Homo sapiens: one gene and its partners. The protein of the gene in region 1 purifies or fractionates together with the protein of each later gene. This does not show direct contact. Each region holds a gene or a part of one and is shown on either strand. Other genes may lie near its edges.

Region 1 (7,455 bases):
ATGACTTAATTGCAAACCACCTTCCCCACTGGCCTCAGTGCACCTGGGTAGTGACCACAGGATAGAGACTGGGGCACCAGCACACACCCACTGTCTCCTTCCCACTCTCTCCAGCCCTTTCCAGGCTGGGGATGCTGCCCTGAGCAGTGCTGATGACTGCATGCCTTTCCCCTGGACACAAGGAAGCACTTGTTAATGCCAGGTCTCTGGAGGCGCACACATGATCCTGTGAGCCAGCCGGGGGAGAAGTGCAAAGAGAGTGTCTAAGAGGGTGGTCATGACAAGGCAGAGAGACATTTAAGAGACAGGGTGGCCTGTGCCCAAAGGATAAGTCTCTTCTGGAAAGGTCTGCTCTTGCTGCCCCTGACCTGGCAGGCAGTTGATGGCTAGAGGTGGTAGGGCATGAGAGCTGTGGAACAGGGGTCCCCTTTACCCTCTGTTTCTTGCTTTACCCAACCCCACAGCATATCCCAGAACATTCACAAAGGGCCCAGCTTCCCACTCCCCCACCCCTTGGTCCATTTCGGAGCAACTTCTCCAGGCAAGAGAGATGCCCACCTCTGTTCTCAAGAGGCAGATGCATTATTTAAGCCTGTGCCAGGCCTGCGCCTGGGACTGGAATGTGAGCATGCAGGTCTGCAACCTGGCAGAGCCCATGCTGGAGACAGGTTTTTAGTGTTGGGTGGATCCTGATGCAATTTACATGAGCTACAGGGGCACATGGTATCTCTGCCGAGCCCTGGGGGTCAGAGGCACCTTGCACGCATCTCTTGTGCCAGATGAATCCAGCAAATGAGCCCACGGGGAACCTCGGCACCTCTCATGGTCTGGGAGCCTCACGTACAGCTTTGTTCTCCCTCATGCAGAGCAAACGTGGCCCAGCACCCATGAGACCCTCCTGACCACGTGGAAGATTGTGGCGTTCACGGCAACCAGTGTGCTGCTGGTGCTGCTGCTCGTCATCCTGGCCAGGATGTTCCAGACCAAGTTCAAGGCCCACTTTCCCCCCAGGTCAGTGTCATGTCTTGGCAGCTGTGGCTCAAGGTCTGACTCAATGCAGCTACCCTTAGCAGCAGAGGGAGAAAGTGATGAGTGAAAAGTTGAAGCTCTAAAGGGAAACAGGGGAGAGCAAAAACAATGTTCTGGGATGTTTTGAGCACAAAGCTGGAGACAGACCTCATTTTCCTCTTTCTTTCTTTCCTACCTCTCTCCCTCCTTCCTGCAGTAGACCATTTGCAGGTGGGCATCATGGGGGGCTAGCGATGGGATCACAGAGTTAGGGCTACAGGCTGTGGACTGCTCCACCCAGAGGCACCATTCCCACTGTGGTCCCCCTGCATGTGGCCCTGGAGTGAAGCACCACACAGCTCAGTCTATAGGGAGGGTAAGATGCGCACACAGCTGACTGGGACACAGGTCAGAGGTGTGTGAACAAAAGTGTTATGCATTGAGAAGCCTCAGGAAGGAGAAAAGACTTTTCTGATTCCAGGAGCAATCAGGAAAGGGCTAGTGAGAGTCTACCATGAAGTCTTATCTGAACCCCTGGAGTGGGACATGTGGAAGGCGCTTCTACATCCTTCTGAGCTGCACCAATCAGCTCGGGTTGGTATCTTCAGCCTCAAGTCATCACCACCAAAGAGGACTGCACCAGCACCCTTAGGAACAAAGAAGAGCCACCCAGCACTACTGCTGGCAAATCATTGTTCCTGGAGGGAGAAGTAGTTTAGACAGCAAAAGGATAAGTTTATGAACATTGAGAAGAAGAGGTGAGGACAGCAAAACACCACAGAACACTAGCCAGGGGCCATTGGTACAAGCTGTCTTTTCCTTGCCTTCTGTGGCCATGTCAGAGTCTTCTCATTTCAGAACCTAATGCTTCAGAAAAGGGCATTTGTTTTTTGCCCACAGGGACAGCCTAGTCCCCAGAGTCATATGTACCTGAAAAAGGGACTATTGCTCATGGAGGAGGAGGCTCCTGGAATTAACCACTTCTCTCTTCCCTTCAGGAAAATGCAGTGTGTTGCTCACATCTCCCAGCTGTGAGAGGAGTGAAGGAAATGGGCAGAGCTGCTGGAGACAGCACCTACCCGCCTTTGCCCTTAACCTCACACCTCACAGGGCGGCCTCCCTCACTTAGCAATTCTCCCCTGCCTGGCAGCAGGGACCCGCTATGGTCACAACCTGATAGGTGCATCCCTCTTTCCCCAGCCACAAATGTGTGCTAGATGTGGGTGTCACCTGCATCCCTCCCCAGGCCCAGAGGTGTGTCAGTGCCATCCTGGTGCCATAGCAAGCTCTTGCTAAGATGCTGAAACCTTCCTTCCTCTCCAACCTGCCATCCACTCTCTGTCTTCCACATTATTATATATTCATCAAGGGACCATGTTCTATCATTGAGCAATTACAGTATCTCAAGAAGGCCTAAGGATTACAAAGAGAAAGCCAACCCACAAGGCTGTGATTGATAGTGCGTTCAAGTACTTTAAAAGAGCCCACAGAGCTATTTTTCTACATATGCTTGGAAGAAAAGTTTCCAGGATATCCACTAAATATTAAGATGTTTTTAAAATGTTCTTGAAACCCTTTCATTTGATGTTCTTCAGCCCTTGAGTCTTTCATCTTATATTATTCTTGAGTTGTTTTGGGAAGGTTGGCTTCAAATACATGACATGAATCCAAATGCATGACAAGAATCTCAAGGGCAAACCAAGAATGGACTTTTTTTCTCCAGGTTCCACAAGAGTAGAGCCTGCAGGGATGTTGACGAGGGGTGTATGGGAGCTGAGTGGCATGGCGGGGACACGTGGAGGGGAAGCTGCCAGATCTTGGGAGCTGTATCCTGGGTGTGGACTGTTAGGGTGAGAAATGGAGAAGAGAGGCGTCTGCTCACCCTGGCCTAGACAACATGGAGGTGCCAGGGATGGTGAGGAGGCAGGGAGTCCTGAGTGAGAAGAGGAGGCCAGCACAAGACAGTGAAGTGGCCGGAGAGGAAGGGAGCATCATTGTCAAGGAAGCAGTAACTACTGGTAAGCAGTAACTACTGGTGGCTGTGGAGGGAGAGCAGTCTGGCTCGGAGCAAGCTCCTCCTTTCCTCCTGCCTCTTGTCTTCTGCCCCCTGAAGAGCATGGTCTTGGTGGTCTCCCGCCCTCTCTGGGCAGTCTTTAAGAGCTGCGGGACAAGGAGTCCACCACCATAATCTCCAAGCCTTTGCAAGATGTTTCAAAAAGTCAGTGGACTTGAGCTTTAGAGAGACGCACAGCCTGTGCTTCCCCTCCACCCCCAGACGTTTCATCTTCTTGGGTTTAGAGCCCCTGCCGCCAGCACTCAGAGATTCAGGGTCTGCCCACCCAGCTGGGTCTTCTCTTCCTCATATTTTACCTTTGGCCTCCTCCCTCAGCACCAGTTCCCAGCAGAGACAATAAGAAACCAAGTTCCGGCCGGGCACAGTGGCTCACGTCTGTAATCCCAGCACTCTAGGAGTCTGAGGCAGGTGGATCACCTGAGGTCAGGAGTTCAAGACCAGCCTGGCCAACATGGTGAAACCTTGTCTCTCCTAAAAATACAAAAATTAGCTGGGGGTGGTGGTGCATGCCTGTAATCCCAGCTACTCGGGAGGCTGAGGCAGGAGAATCGCATGAGCCTGGGAGGCGGAGGTTTCAGTGAGCCAAGATCGTGCCACTGTACTCCAGCCTGAGTGACAGAGTGAGACTCTATCTCAAAAAAAAAAAAAAAAAAAAAAAAAGGAAGAAACCAAGTTCTATTGGCTACTTATTAGCCACCCTGGGTTCCTCTTGAGGCCAGGAGCAGAGTATGGGGGTCACACGGAGCCCAGGCTGTGATGTCAGACGCCCCGGGCTCCAATCAGGCAGTGTTGAATGTGCAGAGGGCTGAGAAGCAAAGGGAGCAGGCCAGGAACTGTGTGCGCGCCCACGTGAGGGAGCCCTGCAGACATGCAGACTCACTTTGCCGCCGCTCCTGGAGCCCTCACACCAGCAACCCGGGCCTTGCTTAGAAGAGTGGCGGGGGGTCAGGAGGTGGCGGTGAGCCTGCGTAGCTTGAACGGGGTAGTGACATAGTGCTCACAGCTTTCCTTTTTTTTCCTTCTTTCCTTTTTCTTTTTCTTTTTTTAAATCTAGACTAAAATGTAATGATTTTTATACTGAATGCAGAAAACAACAAAGAAACATGATGAGCATAGGGCCAGCTAGTCCCTCTGGGCACTGAGGGTCCACAGTTACTGTTTTTTGTTTGTTTGTTTGTTTGTTTATGAGACAACATCTCGCTCTGTTACCCAGGCTGGAGTGCAGTGGTGCGATCATGGCTCACTGCAGCCTCAAACTCCTGGGCTCCAGGGATCCTCCTGCCTCAGCCTCTTGAATAGCTAGGGCTACAGGCACGTGCCACCACATGTGGCTAACATTTTTATTTTTTGTATAGGCAGGGTTTCACTATGTTGCCCAGGCTGGTCTCAAACTCCTGGGCTCAAGCAAAACCTCCCAAAGTGCTGGGATTGCAGGTGTGAGCCACCACACCTGACCTATTTTCTGTACTTTTAACAGTGCTATCCCACTTTCAATCCCATCCTACAGGACACTTCAGAGGTGCACTGGGCTGCTCTGTTAGAAAGGGTTATGTTGTCCCTTGCTCCATGAGCTTATGGCCAGAAGGCCAAAGCCCACAGGTCAAAGGAGCAAGGGAAAAAGCATGAGGAGATAGTAAGGCCCAGAGGCAGGAGGACACGAGAGAGTGACAAAAAGAAAACCTCCTCTCTCCGGAGCATGGGCAGCCGGGATGGCAGCATCATCTTCCAGAGGAGTCCCTGAAAGGAGGCTGGTTCTTCCATATTATCCTCCATACGGGACTCTGCTGCCCATCGTGGGTCCTGAGGACCCCGAGTGCAGGAGGGAGTATGGGTGGCCTCATCCCCAGAGTGGCATGGCTCTCACATGTTGGCACTTCTTTCCTTTACACAGGGGGCCTCCCCGGAGTTCCAGCAGTGACCCTGACTTTGTGGTGGTAGACGGCGTGCCCGTCATGCTCCCGTCCTATGACGAAGCTGTGAGTGGCGGCTTGAGTGCCTTAGGCCCCGGGTACATGGCCTCTGTGGGCCAGGGCTGCCCCTTACCCGTGGACGACCAGAGCCCCCCAGCATACCCCGGCTCAGGGGACACGGACACAGGCCCAGGGGAGTCAGAAACCTGTGACAGCGTCTCAGGCTCTTCTGAGCTGCTCCAAAGTCTGTATTCACCTCCCAGGTGCCAAGAGAGCACCCACCCTGCTTCGGACAACCCTGACATAATTGCCAGCACGGCAGAGGAGGTGGCATCCACCAGCCCAGGCATCGACATTGCAGATGGTAAGTGCTTGCCCCAGGGCCCAAGCCACACCTGCAAACACCTCCGCACCAGCATCTTCAAGCCAGCTCCTTGCTACGCACGCTCCACCCCCCAGCACAGAGTCGAATCAATCTGTTTACCTCTCACTCAGCTTAAATTGCTTCATGCTCTCTCTCCATGTAGAGGCCTTGGGCAAGGCCAATTATTGTAGGGAATGATCATCATCTTGCAAGTAATGAGCCCATTAATGGAAATTTCAAGAGGCACCAAAAGGCATCGAGCCATCCAGAGTAGAAAGGCAGCAGTGGCCGGTGCTTCATTTTTGTGGTGTCTGTATGATCTGGAATGTATTTCTTCTTTATTCCTTAATTAGATAGGACTCCTGGAAGTGGGGCTTAGGGACAGGATGGCACATACATGCCAGGAAGAAGGATCCAGAGGCACGCACTAGGGCCCAGCAGTGTGTTCTAGCCCCAGAGTTCTGTGTACATAGAAGTTATTTTTACCAGATGTGAAGTAAAAGATGCATGTGTACCTGTCACAAGGAAGGGTAGATTCATGGTAAAATAAGGAAAATGTGTCAGATTGATTAGGTCTCTGTTTCCTACAGAAGGGGAGCCCCAGTGCCACTTTGCAAATGAGAGCACTAATTTGGCTTATATTGAGAGTAAATGGCAGTAATGACGTGGAAACAGAGGTCTCCTGGGCCACCACAGTGTTCCTTTTCTGCAAACCACGCTGCCTTTCTGTACTTGAATTTGCAACTTTCTGGCTTGTGTGACCATTAAGGCCTATGGTTAAAATGTAACATTTTATTTTTTATGAACTGGAAATAAGATCATAATTGTTTCCTGGCAAAGAACAATTGTTACAGAAAGATGTTGTATAGGAGGTTGATTTATTTGGTTATTAACTGGTATGTGGAACTTAACATTTTCTTCTCCTCACTGATTTGAGAAACTGTAGATATTTTAATGAGGCATATAATTCCAGATCGTCATGGTGTTTTCTGGTTATGTTAAGCTAATAACCGTCTCTTCTTTTACAGAGATTCCTCTAATGGAAGAAGATCCCTAATATGGGTCAAGATCCAGATGACTCTCCTGCTCCTTCGGGGAAAGGACCTTGTATCTTGGAGTGAGGTCACAGAAGGATAGAGCCTGGGGGCAAAATGTCTAACTTGTCTACATGGGGACCACAGTTCACATTATGCATCTCAGGCTCCACAGTGAGGCTGACAAACTGCAATGGCAGTGCTTTTAAATGAGATTTGAGGATTCACCAAGACCCATGGGGAACCGGGGCAGCAGGGAAGCCCTCGCGTGGTCTTGGATGAGGGGTGTTAAATGTGTATCGTGCTGTGGAACATGGGACAATTCCACGCACATCCCACCGAATCATCACGCATCCCATTGACTGGCAAGTACTCCCCGCCCCCTCTGAAAGCATGTCACATCATGTAAATTTGCTTCTAACATCTGCTTCAAACTGTCTCTGGACTCCAAATTTGGATGGGTCAGCCTCTGCAGAAAGTTTGTGTTGAGATGCTGGAAGAACAGCAGAGCCTCCTGCACCCTCAGCAAGGGACCAGCTCCCAAAGGAAAGGTCCTTGTGTGACATTTGGAGAATCTTCCTTCATCCAGACAACTCTACTCGAAGCAAGACGAAAGCAGGATGTGGCAGTTGCAGTGAGAAAGGAAAGGAAAGATGGGCAGACTCTGCTTTCTGGAAATTTCTTCACAAAGTAGAGCTCATGAACTCTGTGCTGTCTTCTGGTAACATATCATCAGTGTTTGTATTCATGGTGTGGCACATGGATCCATGGCATTGGGTAAATCTGGTGGTTTTTACACATGGTCAGAATGTGTTCAAATACATCTCATGATGGAGACAGTAACCAAGGTAATGTTTTGTTTCAGCATTTTAAAAAGACTCCACTTAACATTTATCTCAGAATCATGAGCCTCTCTCTAGTTGACAATTGTCATTGTTCCCCCAGCCCCAAATTGAACCATACATTTATTTTCCAAAACAGAAATTGTTTCTGTAAACATATCCGACCTTCAAAAGAAGTGTGAGGTTGGATTTTTCCCCCTTTTATTTGTCCTAAGATTCCAGG
Region 2 (7,455 bases), on another chromosome or scaffold:
TGTGGTGGCGCGCACCTGTAATCCCAGTTACTCAGGAGGCTGAGGCAGGAGAATCGCTTGTACCCGGGAGGCAGAGGTTGCAGTGAACCAAGATTGTGCCTCTGCAGTCCAGCCTGGGTAACAGAGTGAGACTTCCTGTCTCAAAAAAAAAAAAAATCATCGGATGGATGGACGGACCACTTCTTGTTATTTATCCATCCACGGGTGCTAGGTTTCTTCCACCTTTGGTTGTCGTGAATAAGGCCACTATGAACATTTCCTTCCGTGGTGAAGGTTTTGTACTAGTGAGGAAAAGGCGTGTTTGTGGTGTTGCATAGGATTCTGGTAAGAAAGTTTGCACTAACCATAAGTATTTGTACTACATTAAAATGAAAGCTCAGGGGCCGGGCGCGGTGGCTCACGCCTGTAATCCCAGCACTTTGGGAGGCCAGGGCGGGCGGATCATGAGGTCAGGAGATCAAGACCATCCTGGCCAACATGGTGAAACCCCGTCTCTACTAAAAATACCAAAAAACTAGCCAGGTGTGGTGGCGGGCACCTGTAGTCCCAGCTACTTGGGAGGCTGAGGCAGGAGAATGGCGTGAACCCGGGAGGCGGAGCTTGCGGTGAGCCGAGATCGCTTCACTGCACTCGAGCCTGGGCAACAGAGCAAGACTCCGTCTCACGCAAAACTCTGTCTCACGCAAGACTCCGTCTCAAAAAAAAAAAGAGTTCAGGGTTTATGAAACTGGCCAGCCGCGTAAAGTTTGCTGTGTTGTTTTTGTGCCCGGGAGGAGTGTGGCCAGGGTGTCACGTCACACAGTACACGTTTCTCAGATGGTGGTTCTCCAGACTGCTGTCCCAAAGTCTGTTTTTGCATCTGGTTCCCACAGACCCACCCTCCACGGTGAGCCTGATTTTGGCCAGGGTAGCTGGAATCTTGCTTGTCTTTCAGCCCGGCAGCTGTACCAGTCCAGGGTCCACAGCTAGTGGCTTTTAGGAAGGAATTTGTTCAGTTGGCTTTGACACATGGCCCCCTAGGGTCCACAGCTCTGTAGTGATGTGGATGTTGTTATCTACAAAGACACATGATCCTTCGTGTCCAGATGAAAGTGATGATGTCTTTGCAGCTGCCCAGCAAGGCTGTGTGTGTGTGTGTGTGTGTGTGTGTGTGTGTGTGTGGTGTGTGTGTGGTGTGTGTGTGTGTATGGGGGAGGGAGGCACCCTTTCCATCTGGGGGTGTGTGTGTGTGGGGTGTGTGTGTGTGTGTGCGCGTGTGTGTGGTGTGTGGTGTGTGTGTGTGTATGGGGGAGGCACCCTTTCCATCTGGGTCCAAGAGACTGGGCCTGGGGAAGACGCTTCTTTTTATCTACTTAGAGACTTTGTTTTATTTGTATTTTTTTGAGACAGGGTCTCACTCTGTCACCCAGGCTGGGGTATGGTGATATGAGCATAGCTCACTGCAGCCTCGGCCTCCCAGGCTGAAGCGATCCTCCCACCTCAGCCTTCTGAATAGCTGGGACTGTAGGCGTGCGTCACCATACTGAGCTATTGTTTTTTTTGTTTGGTTGGTTTAATTTTTTTTGATACAGATGGAGTCTTGCTATGTTGCCCAGACTAGTCTCAAACTCCTGAACTCAAGTGATTCTCCCACCTCAGTTTCCCGACATTCTGGGATCACAGGTGTGAGCCACTGCTGTCTCCCTGTTTTATTAACTGCTGAAAGACCTAGATAAAGAAAGTCTGAAAAGACTTACTATCAGAGCACCATCCTAAGATGATTCCCTCTGACTCAATGGAGAGGGAGGGGAGCTTTTCCTTCAGGCCTGGGTGGCAGGAGCCCAGGTGCTCCAGGCCCCATTTGCCCCAGGCCAAATCACTCGGGAACTTGGATGCAGCTGTCTTTCAGGGTAACCCAAAGGAACCAGATCCCCGCAGGCAGTAGGCTTCTGGGCTGTCCTCTCCTCCTACGTCAGCTCAGTAAGAGCCCTTCGAAGGGATGCTGTGTCGGAGGCCCCAAAAGCCCAGGCTCATCCCTGAGATGCACAGGGTGGGCTGGGCTTAGGCAGCGCTCGAGCATCTCCTGGACGGTGACCCCAGAGAGTGTGGAGACGGAGAGTCCTTGAGAGTCACTGAGAGACGTGGCTGCCCTGCCTTCCCAAGAGGGGCTCTGAGTCATTCCCCACACTCACCTGCCCCTACCCACCCTCACCTGGCCCCCAGCCTCACCTACCCCCACATCTGTACCGATCCCTTTACCCGCACCTTCCCTACCCACCCTCACCTCCCCTGTACCTTCACCTCCCCCACTCACCCGCCCCTGCACCCTCACCTGTCCCCCACCTTCACCTAACCCCCACCCTCACCTGCCCTCCCCTCACCTGGCCTCCTTCCGTTGGGGAAGGGGTTGTAAGGGGCGGCCCCCAAACTGTCTGTCCTGGTGCCCTGCAGAGAAAACAGTACGTGAGGGCCGCAGTCCAAAAGCTTGAGTCCTGGAAGGTGGAGGAGACAGGGATGTGTTGGGAAGGGCCCCATGGTCTTGGATCCCTTCTCGACTGTCAATGGGGCCTTCATGGGAGCGCCAGTCTAGTGATGCACAGCTGGGTGCCCGGCGGGTGGCTGAGGAGGCCTAAAGTCCGAGGCGGCAAGAGCTCTTCCAGAGGCTGTTGTCCTAATCGCTCTGGCATACTCAGGCGGGCACGTAGTTAGGAGCTGATTGGAGAGGAGAGACCCCCACACCAATACTGGGATTTGACTTTCAGGCTAAACTTGAGAAGTGTGGCCTCTGCTGTCCTGCCAGAGCTCTCCAGCCAGTGCCCAGGGCTCTCCAGCCAGTGCCCGGGGGTCTCCACCAGTGCCCGGGGGTCTCCGCCAGTGCCAGGGGTCTCCGCCAGTGCCCAGGGGTCTCCGCCAGTGCTCAGGAGTCTTGGTTTCTTTGTCTTACAGCCCTTTGTTTTGACCTCTCTGAGCCAAGGCCAAAACCCAGACAGGCAGCCCCACGACCTCAGCATCGACATCTACAGCCGGACACTGTTCTGGACGTGCGAGGCCACCAATACCATCAACGTCCACAGGCTGAGCGGGGAAGCCATGGGGGTGGTGCTGCGTGGGGACCGCGACAAGCCCAGGGCCATCGTCGTCAACGCGGAGCGAGGGTAGGAGGCCAACGGGTGGGTGGGGGTGCTGCCCGTCCAGGCGTGCCCGCCGTGTCTTCTGCCGAATGCCAGCCTCTCACAGGCTGGGGAGACTTTCCACCCTGGGGATCCAATGGGTGGCTTTCCAGGGTCCCAAAAGCAAACACAGGCTCTTTCACAGCCCCTCCAGGAAAGCAGAAAGCCCCAAGGGCTGGAAGGGAAGGGGGAGCTCTGCTGAGAGGTTACAAGGCAGCGCTGGCCGACGGGAGTTGCAGTTGATAGGTTTTGTATCATCCTTGTTAAACTTGAACCCTGTGCAGAAATCCCTTCCACGGCATGGGGGCTGCCTGTTGACTCGCTCCTGTTCCACCACAGGGAGCTCCTGGGCTTCTTCCTCCCAGAGGCCCCCGACGCTCCCACCTGTTGGTCGTCAGAGCTTCTGGTTGGTGGGAAGGCACCCAGGACCTTGAGGTCTCCAGAGAGAAAAGCCAGGGAAAGAGGGAGACCGAAACCCATGTGACATGAAACTCAGGCTCCAAACTGAGCACGGGAACGTTTGGGGACAGGAGCGCGATGGCCTTCCTCAGATAGCTGGGGGGCTGGCATGAAGACGGGAGCTACAGCCAGCACAGGTCCTGGGCCGGGAGCCCAGAGATTGAGCCCTGACTCTGTCACTTACTGGCCACGTGACCTTGGGCGGGTGGCATAGCCTCTTGGAGACTCAGTTTCCTCATTGGTAGGAGTGACGGCCACAGTGGTGCGGCCTCTGCAGCACACGGGGGGCTCGGTGGGCGGAAGCCCCGGGTCTATAAGGCGGCTGTGCAGGAGCCAGCCGAGCTGGTCTCCCAACAGCCAGGGCTCCGGGGTCCTTAGCAGCTGTGGGGGGCCTGCACCTGTTTCCCATGGCTGCTGTCAGAAATTACCAGAAGCCAGGTGGCTGAGAGTAATGGACACTTGTTCTCTCACAGTTCCTGAGGGCTGAAGCCCGAGATCGAGGTGTGGGCAGGGCCCTGCGCCCTCTGAAGGCTCTGAGGGAACCTTTGGGCTTCTGGTGGCTCCAGGCACCCCTTGACTTGTGGTCCTGTCACTCCAGTCTCTCTGTCTGGCTGCACATGGCGTGGCCTCTTCTGTACCATTGAAGGACACTTCAGTTGGATTTAGGGCCTACCCTCACCCATTGTGGTCGTATCTTGATCCTTCATGACATTTGTAAAGACCCTGCTTCCAAATAAGCTCACATTCTGAGGTTCTGGGGTGAGCGGGAATTTGGAGAGCATTGTTCAACTAGTATAGAATGTGACCTGTCAGCCTCGGGCAGCCCTGAGAGGCAGGGGCTTTCCACAGCCCAGCTGGGTGCCCTGGGCTCCGTGCTGTCCGAGGAGACGCCATCCCCACACCCGTCCTTCACCCGCCACCCTCCCGCAGGTACCTGTACTTCACCAACATGCAGGACCGGGCAGCCAAGATCGAACGCGCAGCCCTGGACGGCACCGAGCGCGAGGTCCTCTTCACCACCGGCCTCATCCGCCCTGTGGCCCTGGTGGTGGACAACACACTGGGCAAGCTGTTCTGGGTGGACGCGGACCTGAAGCGCATTGAGAGCTGTGACCTGTCAGGTACGCGCCCCGGGGCCTGCCCTAACCGCAGACACCCGGCCTTCATTGTCAGTAATGGCAGCAGCTGCCACATTGTCCGAGACCTGCCGTGAGCCCAGTGCCGCGCCAGGGGCTTTGTGTGTAGCGTGTTTTGTCCTCACACTGACAGCTGTAGGCTGGGGTTCTGAGTGAGCCCCACAGGGCAGAGGCAGAAAATGAGTCTCAGAGAGGGTGAGCGAGCTGCTTGGGGCCCCACAGCAGGAGATGGAGCAGGACTGCAGCCTAGCCTCTGCCCCCAGCACCTGCGCAAGAAGCTGCTCTGCTCTGGACTGTGTTAGGCTGCGAGGGCTGGAGAGAAATGAGAGTTGGTGCTTAGAGAGGGGGCGCAGGTCCCCATGGCTTTTCCTCTTATGATGAGGTAGATGGGTGAAGGGAGGGGCCATGCTTGCAGGGGCCAGTGACCGAGGCCCGCCGTTGGAACTGATGGCCTTCATCCCGAGCCCAGCCCAGGTGGGAGCAGGGCTTTCCGAGGGCTTGTCTTGGGTCGGCCTGCTTCCAGGGACTCTGCTGCAGCTCCCACCCCTGTCCAAAGCATGGAATCCCCCAGGCTCCCTGGCAGTCCTGTCAACCTCTGTCCTCCCAAGCTGAGTGTGGGGCAAGTTCTGGAGGTCAGCACTGCTCAGGGGGGCCCACGGGCTGCTTGCAGGGGCCAACCGCCTGACCCTGGAGGACGCCAACATCGTGCAGCCTCTGGGCCTGACCATCCTTGGCAAGCATCTCTACTGGATCGACCGCCAGCAGCAGATGATCGAGCGTGTGGAGAAGACCACCGGGGACAAGCGGACTCGCATCCAGGGCCGTGTCGCCCACCTCACTGGCATCCATGCAGTGGAGGAAGTCAGCCTGGAGGAGTTCTGTACGTGGGGGCTGGCAGTGGGGTGGGCAGGGTGGCCTCTAAACCCGACCCCTGGAGGAGGCTGGAGGCCAGTGCAAGATCCTGTGTGGCCTCAGCCAGGCGGTGGTCTCTGCCAGATGCCAACTGTTGCCCGCTGGGGTTCAGCGACATGTCCGAATGTCCCGAGGCCTCTGAGGTTGTTTTCTTTTGCCGCAGAACAAATCACCACGAACAGCGTTTTAAGACAACACCAACTCTTTTTTTTTTTTTTTTTTTGAGTCAGGATCTTGCTCTGTTGCCCAGGCTGGGGTGCCCTGGTGCAAACACAGTTCACTGCAGCCTCGACCTCTGGGCTTAATTAAGTGAACACCTTGCCTCAGCCTCCCAGGTAGCTGGGACTACAGGTGGGCACCACCACACCTGGCTAATTTTTTTTTGTAGAGACGGGGTTTCCCCATGTTGCCCAGGCTGGTCTGCAACTCCTGGGCACAAGCTATCTGCCTGCTGTGGCCTCCCAAAGTGCTAGGATTATAGGTGTGAGCCACTGGCCTGACAACACCCACGGATTGTCTCTCAGTTCTGTAAGGCAAAGTCCAGGCACAGCGTGGCTCACCTGGGTTCTCTGCTCAGGGTCTCACGGGGCCAGAATCAAGGTGTCAGGAACGCTGGGCCCTCAGCGGAGGCTCTGTGGAGAAATTAGCTTCCTTGCTCACTCAGCAGGTAGCAGTTGTGGGATCGAGGTTCTGTTTTCTCTCTGGTTATTGGTCGGGGACCACTCTCAGCTCCTAGAGGCCACCACAGGTCCTTGCCCCGTGGCCCTCTCTGCCTCAGCAGTGGGGGCTCCCTGCGTCAGTCCCTCCCACACCTTGAGTCTCTCTGATTTGCTTCTAAAGGGCCCTGTGATTCGGCTCAGCCACCTTTAGATTAGGTTAGCCTCCCCTTTGATAGACTCCAAGTCGGCTGATTAATAACCTTAATCACATCTGCAGAATCCCTTCTGCCACATAAGGTCATGACGCCGTGCTGGGGACTGGGGTGGGAAATTACGGGGTCATTTAGGATTCTGCCTGCCACTGCCTTGCTGTGTCCCAGGGCTTGGGGGAGGGGCCTCCACAGCTGGGACCACAGTCCTTCCTCCCCTCCATGGTAACCATCTGAGGATTACTTGAGACCAGCCTGGGCAACATGGTGAGAACCCATCCCTACAAAAAATACAAACAAAAAGGGACCAGGCTGGGCTTGGTGGCTCATGCCTATAATCCCAGCACTTTGGGAGACCAAGGTGGGCTGATCACTTGAGGTTGGGAGTTCGAGACCAGCCTGCCCAACATAGTGAAATCCCGTCTCTACTAAAAATACAAAAATTAGCTGGGTGTGGTGGCAGGCGCCTGTATTCCCAGCTACTGGGGAGGCTGAGGTGGGAGAATTACTTGAACCTGGGAGGCGGAAGTTGCAGTGAGCCAAAATTACGCCACTGCACTCCAGCCTAGGCAATAGAGTGAGACTCCGTCTCAAAAAAAAAAAAGGGCCAGGGGTGGTAGTGACAAAGAGACCCTATCCCAAAAAAACCGAACACTGAATCCTTGAGACTGAGTAAGGACACTGTGAAATTTTTCTGGGTGGGGCAGGGAACAGAGCGTCTTCTGTCATTTCTTCCACCTGGGTGTGGTCAGCTCTCCCTCCAAGCTGCCTCCTCTTCTTCTCATTGTCCGGGTGTTGGACACATTTGGTTAACTGGATAGAATAACGCGAGTTCCCAGGGACTTGGTCCATTTGCTATTTTATTTTATTTTATTTTATTTTATTTTTTTTATTTATTTATTTATTTATTTATTTATTTATTGAGATGGAG
Region 3 (7,455 bases), on another chromosome or scaffold:
GTTTTATAAAGTTTTATATAAAGATGAATGTATTTAATTTAAAAGATTATCCTTTGTAGCCACCATGATTAAGGGCAGGGACTCTGGAGCCTGCTAGCCTGGGCTCAAATCCCAGCTCAGCCACCAGATAGCCACCTATTGCTCAGTGACCCTGAGTGAAGCATTGAACCTCTGTGCCTCAGTTTCCTCCTTTGTAAAAGGGAATAATAATAGTACCCATGGCCTTAAAGTTGTTTTGAGAATAAATAAGTCGATGTGGACAGCACTTAGAACAGTGCCTGGCACGTGGTACATACCATAAAAGTGTTTCATATTATCCCTATGTTTTAAATGTAAAAAGCCTTATCTTGGCCAGGTACAGTGGCTCACACCTGTAATCACAGCACTTTGGGAGATCGAAGAAGGCAGATTGCTTGAGCCCAGGAGTTCAAGACCAGCCTGGGCAATATACCAAGACCTTATCTCTACAAAAAAAACAAAAAACGAAATTAGCTGGGCATGGTGGCACATACCTGTAGTCCCAGCTACTTGGGAGGCTGAGGTGGGAGGATTGCTTGAGCCTGGGAGGTCGAGGCTGCAGTGAGCTGTGATCGTGCCACTGCACTCCAGCCTGGGGCACAGAGTGGGACCCCGTCTCAAAAAAAAAAAAAAAAAAATTTAAGAGAGAAAGAGAGAAAGAAAAAGAAAAGGCCTATATTTTAGAAAGTGATAGAGCTGGGAGGTTTTCTGTTTGGTTTGGTTTTTGTTGGTTGGTTGGTTTTCTCAATGTCTTTACTTGATCATTAAAAAAAGCAGCAGCAGCAGCTGGTAACCCTATTTGCCCTATACTTCTTTTTGTACTCATCTTTGATACCCAGAAGTCTAAGAAATACTGATTTGTAAAGAACTGTTTTACCCAAAATTGTAGCACTTTTCTTTGCAACTTATTTTCTCCCAAACACTCCAGCTTCCTGAGATTCCTCTTGAGTGCTTAGAAGAGTACCTGGCTTATCAGAAGGGCTAGATAAGAGTTAGTCCTTTTATTCTTGTATATCGATTTTTTTTGCATATCTTATTAGGATGGATCTAGAAGTAGAATTGCTGGGTCAAGAGCATTCCTATTAAAATGGAGACTCCTGTGACTCGGCTGTCTTCCTGAAACATTATACGTGGAAGTGTCCACTTCCTCACACCCCGCCATTTTCTATGACATCCAAGCAGGAAAACTGGGTGGACAATGAGGTGAGGAGGTGCAGAAATTCCTGTCGCCTCCTCCCCTCCTGAGCTCAGAATAGTTTGGGTCTGAAAGACGGCTGCTCCCCACAGGGAGGTAGAGGAGGTGAGATGCAGAGGCTCGCAGCCCCCTAACTCTCACGGGCACCCTGGGAGATCTTGTTCAAGGCACAAGATTTCACACGCTGACGGCCACAACTAGCCTGCCTAAAGCAGCCAGTTTTGCTTGAAAGATGAGCTCCACTTATCCAGAGTGGGTGCCCCACTCTGGGCTGGGGCCAAGTCTAGAGCTCTTCGTCTTACTTGGCCACAGAAAGAAAAAGGGCGGAACATGCTGAGGATGCCATTGTGCCTCTTCCTCCTTTACATTTAATGGACCAGTAGAGAAGAAGGAATGCGTTTCACCTTTCTGTAAGTAACACGCTCAGTTCATTCCTTCCCAGCTCTCCATCCACGAGATGGATGACCCCCACGGCAAGCGCTTCCTCATGGTGATGAAGGGGGCCCCTGAGCGCATCCTAGAGAAATGCAGCACCATCATGATCAACGGCGAGGAGCACCCACTGGACAAGAGCACTGCCAAGACCTTCCACACAGCCTACATGGAGCTGGGCGGGTTGGGCGAGCGTGTGCTGGGTGAGTGCGGCGGCAGGGCCCTGCCCATCACCTGGTGGGCACAGAGATGAGGCAGGCGCCTTGAGGACCTGTGACCTAGCCCAGTGGCCATGGCATCCACGTGAAGCATGTAAAGGAGAACATGATAAGCAGGATGGGAACAAGGAGAGGATGCTGTGTGACAGCACCAAGCAGGGTGGGATGGCCTCCAGAGAGGCAAGCTCAGGGAAGACTTTATGGAAGGAGTTAAATTTCAAACTGGGCCTTAAGTGACTGCATTTGAGGGGAGATAGGGGAAAGTATCCAGGGCCCAGGGAACAGCACAGGCCAATCACAGAGGCAGAACGGCGTGGGGCACATTGGGTGCTGCCAGCAGGTGAGATGGCACTGTCACAGAAACAGGGTTCAAGGGCTGGACTGGAGGTCATGAGATGGAGGTCTTGAACATCTGGGTGAGGAGCCAGGTTTCATCCTGCAGTCAGTAGAGAGCACTGAGGGCTGTGCCACTAGAGTGAGCTGGGCAGTCGCAGGGCTGGGGAAGACTTTATGGAAGGAGTTAAATTTCTTTAACTTCTTTAAATGTCTTTGGCGGCAGCAGGGAGAGGAGAGATGCACATCTCCATAGGAAGCAGCTGCCCTTGCTCAGGCAAAAGGGATGGGAATTTTTTCAGGGTGATGGGAATGGGAAGGAGAGATCAGGGCAAGAGACTTCATAGAGGTAGAGTTTGGTAAGATTTAGAACCTATCAGAGAAGGATAATGTTTAAAAATGATTAAGCTTCCCATTTAACGACTAGGAAGAGAGTGATGCCAGTGATGCAGACAAAGTGTCAGGAAGGAAGGAACCTTAGAAATGCAACAGGAGGAGGACCCAATGGGGGTGCCTGCGGTGTTGTCAAAGGGGACAGTGTGTCCTGTTGTCAGCACCAGGGCTGGCGGAATGGTGCCCCATCAGGACCACAGAATGACAAATTCAAGGAAACAGAAGTGTATGGTTGACGATCCGGCTCATTAAACACCATGGAAGTCCTCACCAATACAGATGCAGTCTGTGGAATGTGTGTTTCTAAAGGCTATTGGAGTTGGCAAATCAGATAAAGCATATAAATGAGATGGTGATGCTTTAGGCATCCAATAACCCACAGTACCGGGTATTCTACACGGGATCGATGCCCACTTGCGTTTGATTTCTCAAAGCCTGCTCCATTGACATTTGCAAAGCAGTGGGCCAGGCTGAAAATAAATTGGATGTGAAAGCTGATCACACAATCTTGGAGGTCCCACCAGACACAAGAGTCCCTTCCACCTCAGCCTATGAGAGGCTGATGCCTTCTGAGAAAAGGATGGCTCGGCCCCATTCCTGCTGGCCTTTCTCTTGGGCTTATCTTGATCTAGCACTGAACTTTGTGCCCCTCCGCTGAACCCCCTTGTTCCTTCACATGCTGTTTTCTCTGCTGAAAATGGCCTTCCCACCTCCACCCTCCCTTTTTTCCCTAGAAATCATCTTTGCCCCTCTCAAGCTTCACCTCACATGTGACCTCCTTGGGGAAGTCTCTCCTAATCCTCCAGGCAGCTGAAATGTGTCTCTGCCCTGAGATGTACCCTATGCTTGATCCCTTTAACTCTGTGCCCCGCTAAACTTCAGAAGTCGAGACTGTGTATTGCCCTAGAACTTGGCAATATAGCAAGATATATTTCTAGAACACAGAGCCTAATGAGCTCACAGTGAATTATATTTGGATGAAATATGTCTTTCCTAAAAAAATGCATTATGGAGTTGAAGAAATTAAACAATTCTGGCTTATTCTAATGTATTGGTAAAACAGCAGAGGACCAAGGTGTATGAGCATGTTCTCCTCTTATTTTTTTTCGTTTCCTATTCTAGTTTCACTGACTCACTAATTCATCTGTATTACAGGTTTCTGTCATCTCTACCTGCCAGCAGACGAGTTTCCAGAAACCTACTCATTTGACATAGACGCTATGAACTTTCCGACCTCCAACCTCTGTTTTGTGGGACTCTTGTCAATGATCGATCCCCCTCGGTCCACCGTGCCAGATGCAGTCACCAAATGCCGGAGTGCAGGGATCAAGGTGGGAGTTATTTTCCTGACTCAAGAAGTTCTTTCTTTATGTCGTGTTCCTTTCTAATAATGGTTTTCATAGCAGATGGTCAGTATTTAGGTGTCTTCAAGTAAATATCATAATTCCTATTTTATTTCTAGTTTCACTGTGCTAAGGTTACTGAAACTGTCCCACAAAAAGAAAATGATTGTGTCTATGTGGAATGAACCACATAAACAGTAAATGCAATGAGAAGAATCTCCTAGTGCCTTGAAGTGACCATATCTCGCCCTAGTCCATGGTAGATACTAAAAGGCTTTATTGGCTGGGCGCAGTGGCTCATGCCTGAAATCCCAGCACTTTGGGAAGCTGAGGCAGGCGGATCATCTGAGGTCAGGAGTTCCAGACCAGCCATGGCCAACATGGTGAAACCCCGTTTCTACTAAAAATACAAAAAAATTAGCCAGATGTGGTGGCACACACCTGTAATCCCAGCTACTCGGGAGGCTGAGGCAGGAGAATCTCTTGAATCCAGGAGGCAGAGGTTGCAGTGAGCCGAGATCACACCATTGCACTCCAGCTTGGGCAACAAGAGTGAAACTCTGTCTCAAAAAAAAAAAAAAAAAAAGAAAGAAAGAAAAGAAAAGAAAAAAAGAAAGAAAAAAGGCTTTATTACTCAGTCTTGAGGCTCAGCCCCCATAATCCATGTTCATCATTACTAGGTTAATATTAAGACTGTTGAAGTAACATGGGGCTACCCCCAAGTAGACACTCACCAGCCCTTTCACAAATAAAGTGGCATCAAAGGGGAAGGGCTTCCTTTCATGTCAGAGGAGGAAGCGTATGAAGCTTAGGAGCAAGGGTAGACCCAATGGGATTAGTGTTTCCTCCAAAGACAGTTGTCTCGTAGATCCAGAGCTGCCACTGTAATCACCAACCACGTTCTCCCAGGGCACTACAGAGTAGGTATTACTGAACCATCCCCACTTTGGCCAACCGAGTTCTTCATTACCCGTGGGCCTTCTCGTTGTCTTTGCTCTAGGTTATTATGGTTACTGGTGATCATCCCATCACAGCCAAAGCTATTGCCAAGAGTGTGGGGATCATTTCAGCCAACAGTGAAACAGTGGAAGACATTGCACATCGCCTCAACATTGCTGTGGAGCAAGTTAACAAACGGTAAGCACAGGAGCAGCATAGTAAAAATTCCAGTTTATACCCATGGGGCCCCACTGGCTCTAAAGAGCTGCACTACTTGGAACAAATCAGCTTTTTGCTCTCAGAGTTATGCTAGGCTTGTTTGAGCTATTATTTGCATATCCATGTATTCACTCTAATTTCACTGAGCAGCTAATATGTGCCAGGCACAGTATTGATACCATGAAATGACCCTTTATGTGTTCCTTGTTTGAAATTTCAAAATCCAGTGTGCCCTGGGCACAAAACCTATGTGCCCAATTTAGAATAAGAAAAACTGAAACAAAGGGTTTATGTGAAATTACTTGCCATAGATGCAGTTGCATAATTTGGAATCGTAAGAACCCTGTGGGTTGTTTCATGCACCCTCCTTGGTAAGCATCTTGGGTATTTATCCACCCGGTTTCATAACGTGTAGCTATGTAAACACACCCTTCTTTTTTATTTGGTAATAGATAGAATGGAAGCTTCCTAAGGAAAGTTTTTTTCCTTGTTTCTCCTAATTCTTTTAATCATGTTTATCCTTATTCTTTTAATCATGTTCATCCAACTGTACATTCACTCATGTATTTGTTCTTTCAACAAGTATTTACTGCGTGCCAACTATATACCAGGCAAGACCTGGAACTACAGTAGCAAACTGAACAATACTATCCACACCGTTGGGGAATCTTTCCATCGAGCCAAGGAGACACAAACAAAGCTAACAATGATGTGGCCAGTGTAATGAGGGAGCCACACAAGGCTAGGGAGCTGGGCATGCAGGAGAGTGGCCTGGACTGTGCCTGGTCTCCATGAGTCAAAGACTCCGAATTCTCAGGTTGAGAAGTAATGTTCATTAGCTGGGTTATGTTTTCACGCATGCGGGAGATGAGGGAAAGACCAATGCACCTCTTCAGTTTCCCCAAGCACTTAGGTCTTTTAGGGACACACAGCTGTCAGGTCATAACAAATTACCACGTTAGACAACCAACCAGGGTTCCCGCCTCTGGGCACAGCAGCAGTACCTGAAGTCTAAGAGTCTTGCAGTGCCCTTTAGTATACATAACATCCCTCTATGAAAACAACTTTGGGGCTTGTTTATTTGTTTGGTTTTGTAAGATAATCGGATTATACTTTTTTTCACTTTAGAATTTTAAACAAATTTTGTTTGTTTGTTTGTTTGTTTATTTAGACAGAGTCTCTCTCTGTCACCCACGCTGTAATGCAGTGGTGTGATCTCAGCTCACTGCAATCTCCACCTCCTGGGTTCAAGCGATTCTCCTGCCTCAGCCTCCTGAATAGCTGGGATTACAGGCGCCCGCCACCATGCCTGGCTAATTTTGTATTTTTAGTAGAGACGGGGCTTTGCCATGTTGGCCAGGCTGGTCTCAAACTCCTGACCTCAAGTGATCCACCCACCTTAGCCTCCCAAAGTGCTGGGCTTACAGGCGTGAGCCACCACACCTGGACTAAAAGAAATTTTTTTAAGAGTAGTCAAGTGCAGTAGTGAGAAGAGGGGAAAGAGTAGAAGTTTGATCTGTAACTGACTGTGAACAATCAGTTGAGCTAATTCACTACTACCTTCAGACCAGCCGAGTCTTCTTTTTTTAGATACAAGGTGTCCTGTCAGATCACCCAGGCTGGAGTGCAATGGTGTGATCATAGCTCACTGCAGCCTCGACCTCCTGGGTTCAAGGGATCCTCCCCTCTCAGCCTCCCAAGTAGCTGGGACTACAGGCTTGTGTCACTGCACCCAGCTTCATTTTAGCAGATTTTTTTTTTTTTGAGATGGAGTCTTTCTCTGTTGCCTAGGCTGGAGTGTGGAGTGCAGTGGTGAAATCTCATTGCAGCCTCCACCTCCTGGGTTCAAGGGATCCTCCCCTCTCAGCCTCCCAAGTAGCTGGGACTTTAATTTAAAATTTTAGCAGATTTTTTTTTTTTTGAGATGGAGTCTTTCTCTGTTGCCTAGGCTGGAGTGTGGAGTGCAGTGGTGAAATCTCATTGCAGCCTCCACCTCCTGGGTTCAAGCAATTCTCCTGCCTCAGCCTCCTGAGTAGCTGGGGTTACAGGCATGTGCCACCACACCCGGCTAGTTTTTGTACTTTTAGTAGAGACGGGGTTTCACGATGTTGGCCAGGCTGGTCTTTAACTCCTGACTGCAAGGGTTCTGCTCGCCTTGGCTTCCCAGAGTGTAGAGATTACAGGCGTAAGCCACTGCGCCTGGCCCATTTTAGCAATTTTTAATGAAAGTTGTATATAAGATACCTTATTCCTGCATCTTCTCAATTGCTTCTTTTTTATATTTGCCCTTCCTTCCCTACTTAGGAAGATTTGTTTGGCCTTCCATTCAAGGATCTTTTGTGGTCTTTGTCTAGTTTTAGCCTGG
Region 4 (7,455 bases), on another chromosome or scaffold:
TGCTGATTATGTCATTCAGTGGAGGGGAAGGAAGTATCTGATGAGCATGCCTGGGAACCAAAACTGTCAAGGAAGCTAAATTTTGTGATTCTCAGTTAGGACTACTTGTTAACTCTGTCTTTTTAAGAGATACAGCTGTGAAAATGTATGACCTTTTTTTTTAATGCCATGGGTATTGCATAAATAGGAATAATAATAAATAGGAATGTGTAATAATTAGGACACAGTAATAAATTAGGACAGAGAGGTACTATTAATATTATATTTATTAGAATTTTATTACAAGTTGTCTGTAATATATAGCTAGCAGACTCAGTGAATTGGCAAATAGTATTTTGTTTTAATAAGATTAAAATCAGCAGATGTCACCCTGGATAAGTACGTTAGAATGAATTTTTTCACAGATCTCAGAATTGTCGTTGTTAGAATGGAGAAAAGAATAATGTTTTATTCAGAAGAAATAATGAATTTTCCTCTGTTCTTCAATTCAGGAAATGTTTATTGAATTTCATATGTTCTTGGTACCGCTGAAGCCCAGATGATAAAGTAGTGACCTGGACAGAGAAAGTGCTTCTGTGCTGTAGATCCAGTCTCTGTGACTGAACAGATGGGAACAGGACTGAAAATGTTAGCTGTTACACATTTCTTTCTAAAACAGCAGAAATGATAAGAGATTACTGTGTCCATATTGTGGAGACAACACTTGATAAACCAGCTATCCTTTCTTGGCATGGAGGGCAGGCTGATTTTTGTGTAGTCATCTAGATTTCTTGTCTGCTTAATAACAAGGTTGTGAACAAAGGTGAACTCATCCATTCAGGTTGTTTCCTAAAGATGTTTAAATTACTAGTTAAAAAATATCAATTGAACCAATTATTCTGATTATAAAAGTAACAGTATTGTTTCAGTAAATTTTTCATGTTTTAATGGATTAGTTGGGTGATAGCCTTTGATTTTATTATTCCGTGTATTTAACATTGCTTTCTAGTGATTTAAGACAAGTCCTGTTTTCTTAAATTTTTATTAGCAGAGACTACTTTTAAGTACTGGCTTAAACAGAAATAATTTTAAGTTAAGAATATCCATTTTCAAATTGAGTATGATCAAGGAGAGTTATGTACGGCTAATAATTAGAAGTACTAATATCTAATATTGTTTTCCTTCATGCAGGTACCATACATTATCTGTATCATAAAGTTTCCATTTGAAGGTTATTTATTTTATATATACACCCTTTTTTAGGTCAGCTTATTTCGGATCAAGTGGCAGAAATCGTATCTAAATACGACCCCAATGTTTACAGCATCAAGTATAATAACCAATTAGCAACTCGGACTGCACAAGCTATTTTTGATGACAGCTATTTGGGTAGGTAAAACCAAAATTTACTCATTTTTGGAACTGTGGTACATATATCTTATATCTGAGTATGGTCTTTTAAGTAGAAAAATATTTTATGTGAAATAGATTAGGATTTTTTGAAACATACAGAATATACAATTTCAAATTGTTAATGAGTACTTTGGTTATGTTACGTTTCAGTAATTGAAATTGAAGACAGTGATTATTTGTGCAGTGATAATAATAATAGCTAGCCTTTAAGATATGCTTACTGTGTTCTGGGCATTGTTCAAGGTGACTTGGTTTGTATTCACTCATTTAATCCTCACAAGTCAAGCATACTGTATTATTCTCATTTTGTAGGTGAAAACACTGAGGCACTGAGACGCAAAATAACTTGCCCAAAGTCACTCGCTTGTAACTTGCTGTTCAGAGATTCAAATGGAGACAGTCTAACTCCTGAAGTTTTCTTCATGATGTTAAATAAAAGTTTTGGTCTTTAGGACTTATTAACATGTGTTCTCTCTTTCAATTTCTTTATGATATATTAAAACAAGTCATATATGACAGAAATAGTACTTGCTGATTGAGAGAATTTATTTGTTCTTTATGATGAGTTGTAAATTTGGTGTTTTTAACAGACTCCTTTGTAAAGTTAATAAGACAATTGTAGTTTTGTAATAAAAATAGACTATTTGAGTATTTAACTCAGTTTCATTTAAAATTCATATGTCATATATATATGAATCTGTTATGACTAGGGGACAAAATATTGCATAAGTAAAGGAGTTTCTTGAAAATATTTTCAAGGAATGCTTACTCAGCAAGCCTGCTGAAGATAACGTCCTTGTCCTGATGGTTCTCCCCTTTGGTTTCCTGTTTAGGTTATTCTGTGGCTGTCGGAGATTTCAATGGTGATGGCATAGATGGTATGAAGTACTTGAACTATATCTAATCTTTAAAAAAATTAGATTAAGTATTTGAAACATGTGGCATTGAAAATTTTAAGCAGTTTGAGTGGCTGGGTGCTGTGGCTGCAGCCTGTAATCTCAGCACTTTGGGAGGCTGAGGCGGGTGGATCCCTTGAGCCCTGGAGTTCAAGAACAGTCTGGACAACATGGCAAAACCCTGCCTCTAGAAAAAACACAAAAATTAGCCGGGCGCGGTGATGCACACCAGTGTCTAGCTTCTCAGGAGGCTGAGGTGGGAGGATCTCCAGAGCCCAGGGAGGTTGAGGCTGCTGTGAGTTGTGATTGCGCCACTGCACTCCCGCCCGGGCGACAGAGCCGAGACCCTGTCTCAAAAAAAAAAAAAAAAAAGGAAAAGAAAATAAAATTTTAAGCAATTTTAAACCATTGTTATGGAATATAACAGAAGAAATGAGGAAGATGTTAGCACACTGGTGAGAGTCCAGGCTAGGTCTGTGCTGAACTTCCTCTAGTGGCTGCTGAAATTGAGACAGCTACACTTGGCTTCAGTGCCTTTCCTTTCTGCTTCTTTTTAGCCCCCAACACTGTTAGTGATTTCCTTAGCATTTTCCTCCTTGTCTTCAGCAAATTCATTCCTCTGGGAGGAAGAATTAGTGTCTTCTTTCTTTAGGCATCCTTTGTTACCTTCTGGGCCATCTCTGTACGGTTATTACCCCATCCTCTCATTGTCCATCCATCTTCCTTCAGAGCTCCGTTTAGGAATCACAGTCTTTACCTGATTTTGATCACATTTTTGTGCCACAGCCACTTCTACCCCACTTCAGTTTGCTCTGTATTATTTTTCATTACTGTACTACTAAACTAAATGTAGTTTTTCTTCATTCTTAGGTTACTTTATCTTGTCTATTCTTGTTTAACAATATTACAAATGACTTGAGGGCTTATTTGCATATGTTTGAGAGCCCTCCAGAATTTGTATTTTGTAAATTTTGATTTTATAGTTTAAAAATGCTGGGCTATTTATTACGGAGTACCAATTTTTCTAAATTGATTGTTTGTTTTGAACTGAAGTAGTAAAACTTAAAGCTTGCTGACATAGTCACTTCTGGTCTGCAACTTCCAGTGTTGTCCTAAAAAATGAATAATTTGTTTGTTTGTTTGTTTCAGACTTTGTTTCAGGAGTTCCAAGAGCAGCAAGGACTTTGGGAATGGTAGGACAGTTAAAAGGTATTTTTTAAAAAATCTCTAAGTTATCTTCTATTTTACCAGATTTCACATACTTCTATTTTTCCTTCACAGGTTTATATTTATGATGGGAAGAACATGTCCTCCTTATACAATTTTACTGGCGAGCAGGTATGCTTCCAAAATATGATCGTCCTCTCCCACTATAAAAGCAGTATGTACTCATTGGAGAAAATTTGCGAAATAAAACTGTAAAAATGAACTATAATCTCATCAAATAGATAATTCTTCCAACTCTTACCATTTTGGTCAAACTATTATCATTTCTCTTTTGAGCGTGTGTGTGTGTGTGTGTGTGTGTGTGTGTGTGTGTGTGTAGTATATAAACAAAAATTGGTTTACTCTGTATTTTTCATTTTGTCTTGCCTTTTTCACTCAATATTTTATCATCAGAGTTTCTAATTTCTTAAAACTTTCCTTGGCAGTATCAGAATGGTTTAATGATTCCATAATATTCAATATTCTAGATATAAGATGGGCTTTAAATATTTCATCTTTGTTTTAACCAAAGTAATTTGGATATTTTGGCTTGTTTTTGTTTCCTTTTTTTTTTTTTTTTAGGAAATGCAAAATCACATGCATACAAAACCACAAAGACTTCCTTTTTCTTTACTGAAAAGAAAAAAGAGAAAAGAATTCTTTAAATTCTTTTTTAAGGATGATCAATGCCTTATAATTTTATTAGATGCAACAGAAAGCATGGCACAGATATGTGTATTATAGATATTATAAGCGAACTTCATTTTTACTACATGAAATAAGATATTTCTCAGCTAAAAAAATGCTAGTACTTTTTAAGTATTAGACATTTCTCTGCGAGTACAGGCATTTTATAATATTCTCTGTTGTATGTCTCAAAGAATTATACCATAAGTTGGTAATGATGAATAAACATTTAAACAGTAGGTAGAGAAAAATCTTTCTCAAAGTTTGCAGATCTGGGATTCAAGCCTTTTTGTTCAGTTGAGATTGTTGGGCTTTGGGATAGGATTGACAGGCTGACTGACTAGACTCATGGTCCCCAGAAACCTCCTCCCATTTGTATGGCAGTCAAGATTGATGCACAACCTGGAGGGCCCTGCAGTTGACAGGCAGTTAGGGTTGCTGCAGGGGTGGTCCCTTTGTTCCGTTTTGACTTCTCCAGCTCAAGCAGCTTCTCCTGTCTGGTGACCATGTATGAGTCTGGATCCTACTGCATGCACTCAATGATACTTGCTTTATTCCTCCTTCCACTATTGGGAAGTGGGGGTGGCTAGAGAGGAGTGGGAAGCGTGGCTTTTAGATGAGGACAAACCTGGGTTTTCCATGCTCAATCTGTTATTGCATTGGATAAGGTATTTGCTGCTGAAAATCTGTTTCTTATTTATAAAAATAGGGATGCTGACAACTTCCTCATGGGACAGTTGTGAGAATCAAAAGAAAACATTCGAATCATAGTGCCCGGGACAAAGTGTGTCTCAGTAAATGCCATCCTTTCTTTACACTTCCAAGCCAAACACCATAGGTGACTAAGGCCCATGAATATTATTCTGTTACATAGTCGGCACATCAACCTTGTACCCCAAACACAGTATATTTTATTTCACAAGCTCTGAACTTGTTATTTAATACAGAACACACCTTTCATTTTCCCAATTACACTGTATCAACCCAAAATAGATAATGCAGGAATCTCCCTTATCATTCTCCCTTGATATCTGAGCCAATCAAATTTGAGAAGCATTGCTAACTTTCCTTTTTTGGTTTGTTGACTCATTTTTCACCTTACTTTATATTTAATCTGTCATCTCTTTTAGTTTTGTTTTGCACTTTCAGCTCTCTTTAGAGCTTTCCTTTTTCACATTTATTTACAGCTAAGCTGCTCATCCTATGCAAGCCTGTGGTCTCCTGTGGTAGGGAAGAGGACATTTCTGCTCCCTGTGCATTATAAGCTCATAATAAACCCAAACACATTTGTACTGTGTGTGATTCAAAAGCAAAATCATGTGGCAAGTAATCTATAGAGATATGACACAAAAATGAGCTCCTTTCCATATCTTTCCAAACAGTAATTTTTAAACAGTAGTAGTAGTTACACATAGGGGAGCCAATTATTATCTGTTATTAATAATTATTATCTATTATCCTCATGACATAGGCATCCATATAAAACTTGTTGGGTTCAATCACAACATTTGTCTGTGACTATATATCTTTGTTAGTGTGCTTGTGTCTGGTATGTTTTGGGAAGTGGAGAGAAAGGGAGATAGTAGGGTAGGCCTGAGAAGGAGAATTGATAGTCCTTAGACTTAAATGTCATATATCAACAACACTGGAAGGATATACATGTAATATATTGTGTATATACATGTAATATATTGTGTCCATGATCTAGGAAAACAACAAGCCTCATTACCTGATTGTCATTGTGTTGGTAGAATAAACAAAAGACAAGACATTTAGATTGAAGCACTATATGCAGAGAAAAAAAATAACCCTATTTGGTACATATATTACAAATGTTAATTGTCTAAACTAATTGGATGAAATATAAACATTTCATTTTCATCTTTTTATCCAGATGGCTGCATATTTCGGATTTTCTGTAGCTGCCACTGACATTAATGGAGATGAGTAAGTTTAAAAAAAAATGTTTCCAGAAAGTTATCTTCTCATGTTTACGAATACTTTACTCAAACTAAACATTTTTTTCTTCTGTTTTTGTATTCCTTTTCTGCTAATCTTTCTGTTTAAGGAAACAATTTGAAGCAACCTTAATCATGAATTCTAGAAAACCTCATATGTTTGTTCTGTTTTTTTTCAGTAGCTTTTATAACATGAACAAATAAAGTAATTTTATGAATTATTCATAGTTTCTTAAAAGAATTAAAGGAAGTTTCAAATTTGAAATGAGTGCTCTGGTAATCATTTTGTGTTTCACTGTGGGTGTGAGAGATGCAGAAAGAGGAAAAGTGAGTTGTAGTAAGAAAGAAAATGCCTACTAAGACATGAAATTTGTTCTTGCTTTGGTGAGAAGTTTCTGTTCTTCTAGTTATGCAGATGTGTTTATTGGAGCACCTCTCTTCATGGATCGTGGCTCTGATGGCAAACTCCAAGAGGTGGGGCAGGTCTCAGTGTCTCTACAGAGAGCTTCAGGAGACTTCCAGACGACAAAGCTGAATGGATTTGAGGTCTTTGCACGGTTTGGCAGTGCCATAGCTCCTTTGGGAGATCTGGACCAGGATGGTTTCAATGGTAAGATCAAAGTTTAGCAGCTACAGGTCCCTGATTATCTGTGTCCACCTGGAAAAGTTCTGTAAGTCCATCTGTAGAAGTCTACACGAGCAAATCTCCTTCCTGGAAAGGTGGATTGTGTGTAAGTGAGTAACACACCAAATTTAAAGACAGTTTGCTATTTTTCTTTAAAAATCAGAGCAAAGATTTCAATAATGGACTCTCATGAGTTATTATTCACTTGGCCTCAAATTAGAAGGTCAGAATGATTACTTTCTGAAAGGAACCTTCATTACCCTGGTGCCTACTGCTAGCTGGTATGTGTTTCTGCATCCTGCTTAGCAGCAGTGCCCTCTTCTGTTCATTTGGCTACAAGTGTTAAAAAAAAATGCTTCCAGGCACATTGTCAAGGCAATGCTGACTAATGCATACCTCAAAGGTATGATTTGCCATTAATATTTTTAAAGCCATAACTTTGTTGTAGCTGTCCAAAATGTTCTAAGGGATGTTATATCTCCCTTTATGGTGGCATATTAAAAGTATAAGCCTATTCGTTTATAATAGTACCATTTTAATAGTTGTCGATATCTTTAAAAAGCAAAGTTAGCTTTTACTTTAGAACTCTTTTCAGAAACCTGAAATATAGGTTACAAATTACCAAGATTTTTTTTTTAATCTGTTAAAAACCTTTCTAGAGATCACAGAATGGATAGTTGAACTAGTTTGT

Evidence for each region.
Region 2: the proteins of SUSD4 (region 1) and LRP5 purify together in Homo sapiens (affinity purification with mass spectrometry; 3 studies listed by BioGRID and IntAct, with this or other methods). This does not show direct contact.
Region 3: the proteins of SUSD4 (region 1) and ATP12A purify together in Homo sapiens (affinity purification with mass spectrometry; 3 studies listed by BioGRID and IntAct, with this or other methods). This does not show direct contact.
Region 4: the proteins of SUSD4 (region 1) and ITGAV purify together in Homo sapiens (affinity purification with mass spectrometry; 3 studies listed by BioGRID and IntAct, with this or other methods). This does not show direct contact.

What each region holds. Positions count from the first base shown.
Region 1 is NC_000001.11:223,221,150-223,228,604, reverse strand, and holds part of SUSD4 (sushi domain-containing protein 4 isoform a precursor), read left to right. Parts: intron 1-866; coding exon 867-1,011; intron 1,012-4,973; coding exon 4,974-5,356; intron 5,357-6,384; coding exon 6,385-6,413; 3' UTR 6,414-7,455. UniProt on the Homo sapiens protein: Acts as a complement inhibitor by disrupting the formation of the classical C3 convertase.
Region 2 is NC_000011.10:68,420,564-68,428,018, forward strand, and holds part of LRP5 (low-density lipoprotein receptor-related protein 5 isoform 1 precursor), read left to right. Parts: intron 1-2,925; coding exon 2,926-3,134; intron 3,135-4,538; coding exon 4,539-4,729; intron 4,730-5,414; coding exon 5,415-5,624; intron 5,625-7,455. UniProt on the Homo sapiens protein: Acts as a coreceptor with members of the frizzled family of seven-transmembrane spanning receptors to transduce signal by Wnt proteins.
Region 3 is NC_000013.11:24,697,003-24,704,457, forward strand, and holds part of ATP12A (potassium-transporting ATPase alpha chain 2), read left to right. Parts: intron 1-1,655; coding exon 1,656-1,848; intron 1,849-3,744; coding exon 3,745-3,920; intron 3,921-4,932; coding exon 4,933-5,069; intron 5,070-7,455. UniProt on the Homo sapiens protein: The catalytic subunit of a H(+)/K(+) ATPase and/or Na(+)/K(+) ATPase pump which transports K(+) ions in exchange for Na(+) and/or H(+) ions across the apical membrane of epithelial cells.
Region 4 is NC_000002.12:186,634,840-186,642,294, forward strand, and holds part of ITGAV (integrin alpha-V isoform 1 preproprotein), read left to right. Parts: intron 1-1,242; coding exon 1,243-1,368; intron 1,369-2,225; coding exon 2,226-2,270; intron 2,271-3,437; coding exon 3,438-3,481; intron 3,482-3,569; coding exon 3,570-3,626; intron 3,627-6,075; coding exon 6,076-6,128; intron 6,129-6,546; coding exon 6,547-6,749; intron 6,750-7,455.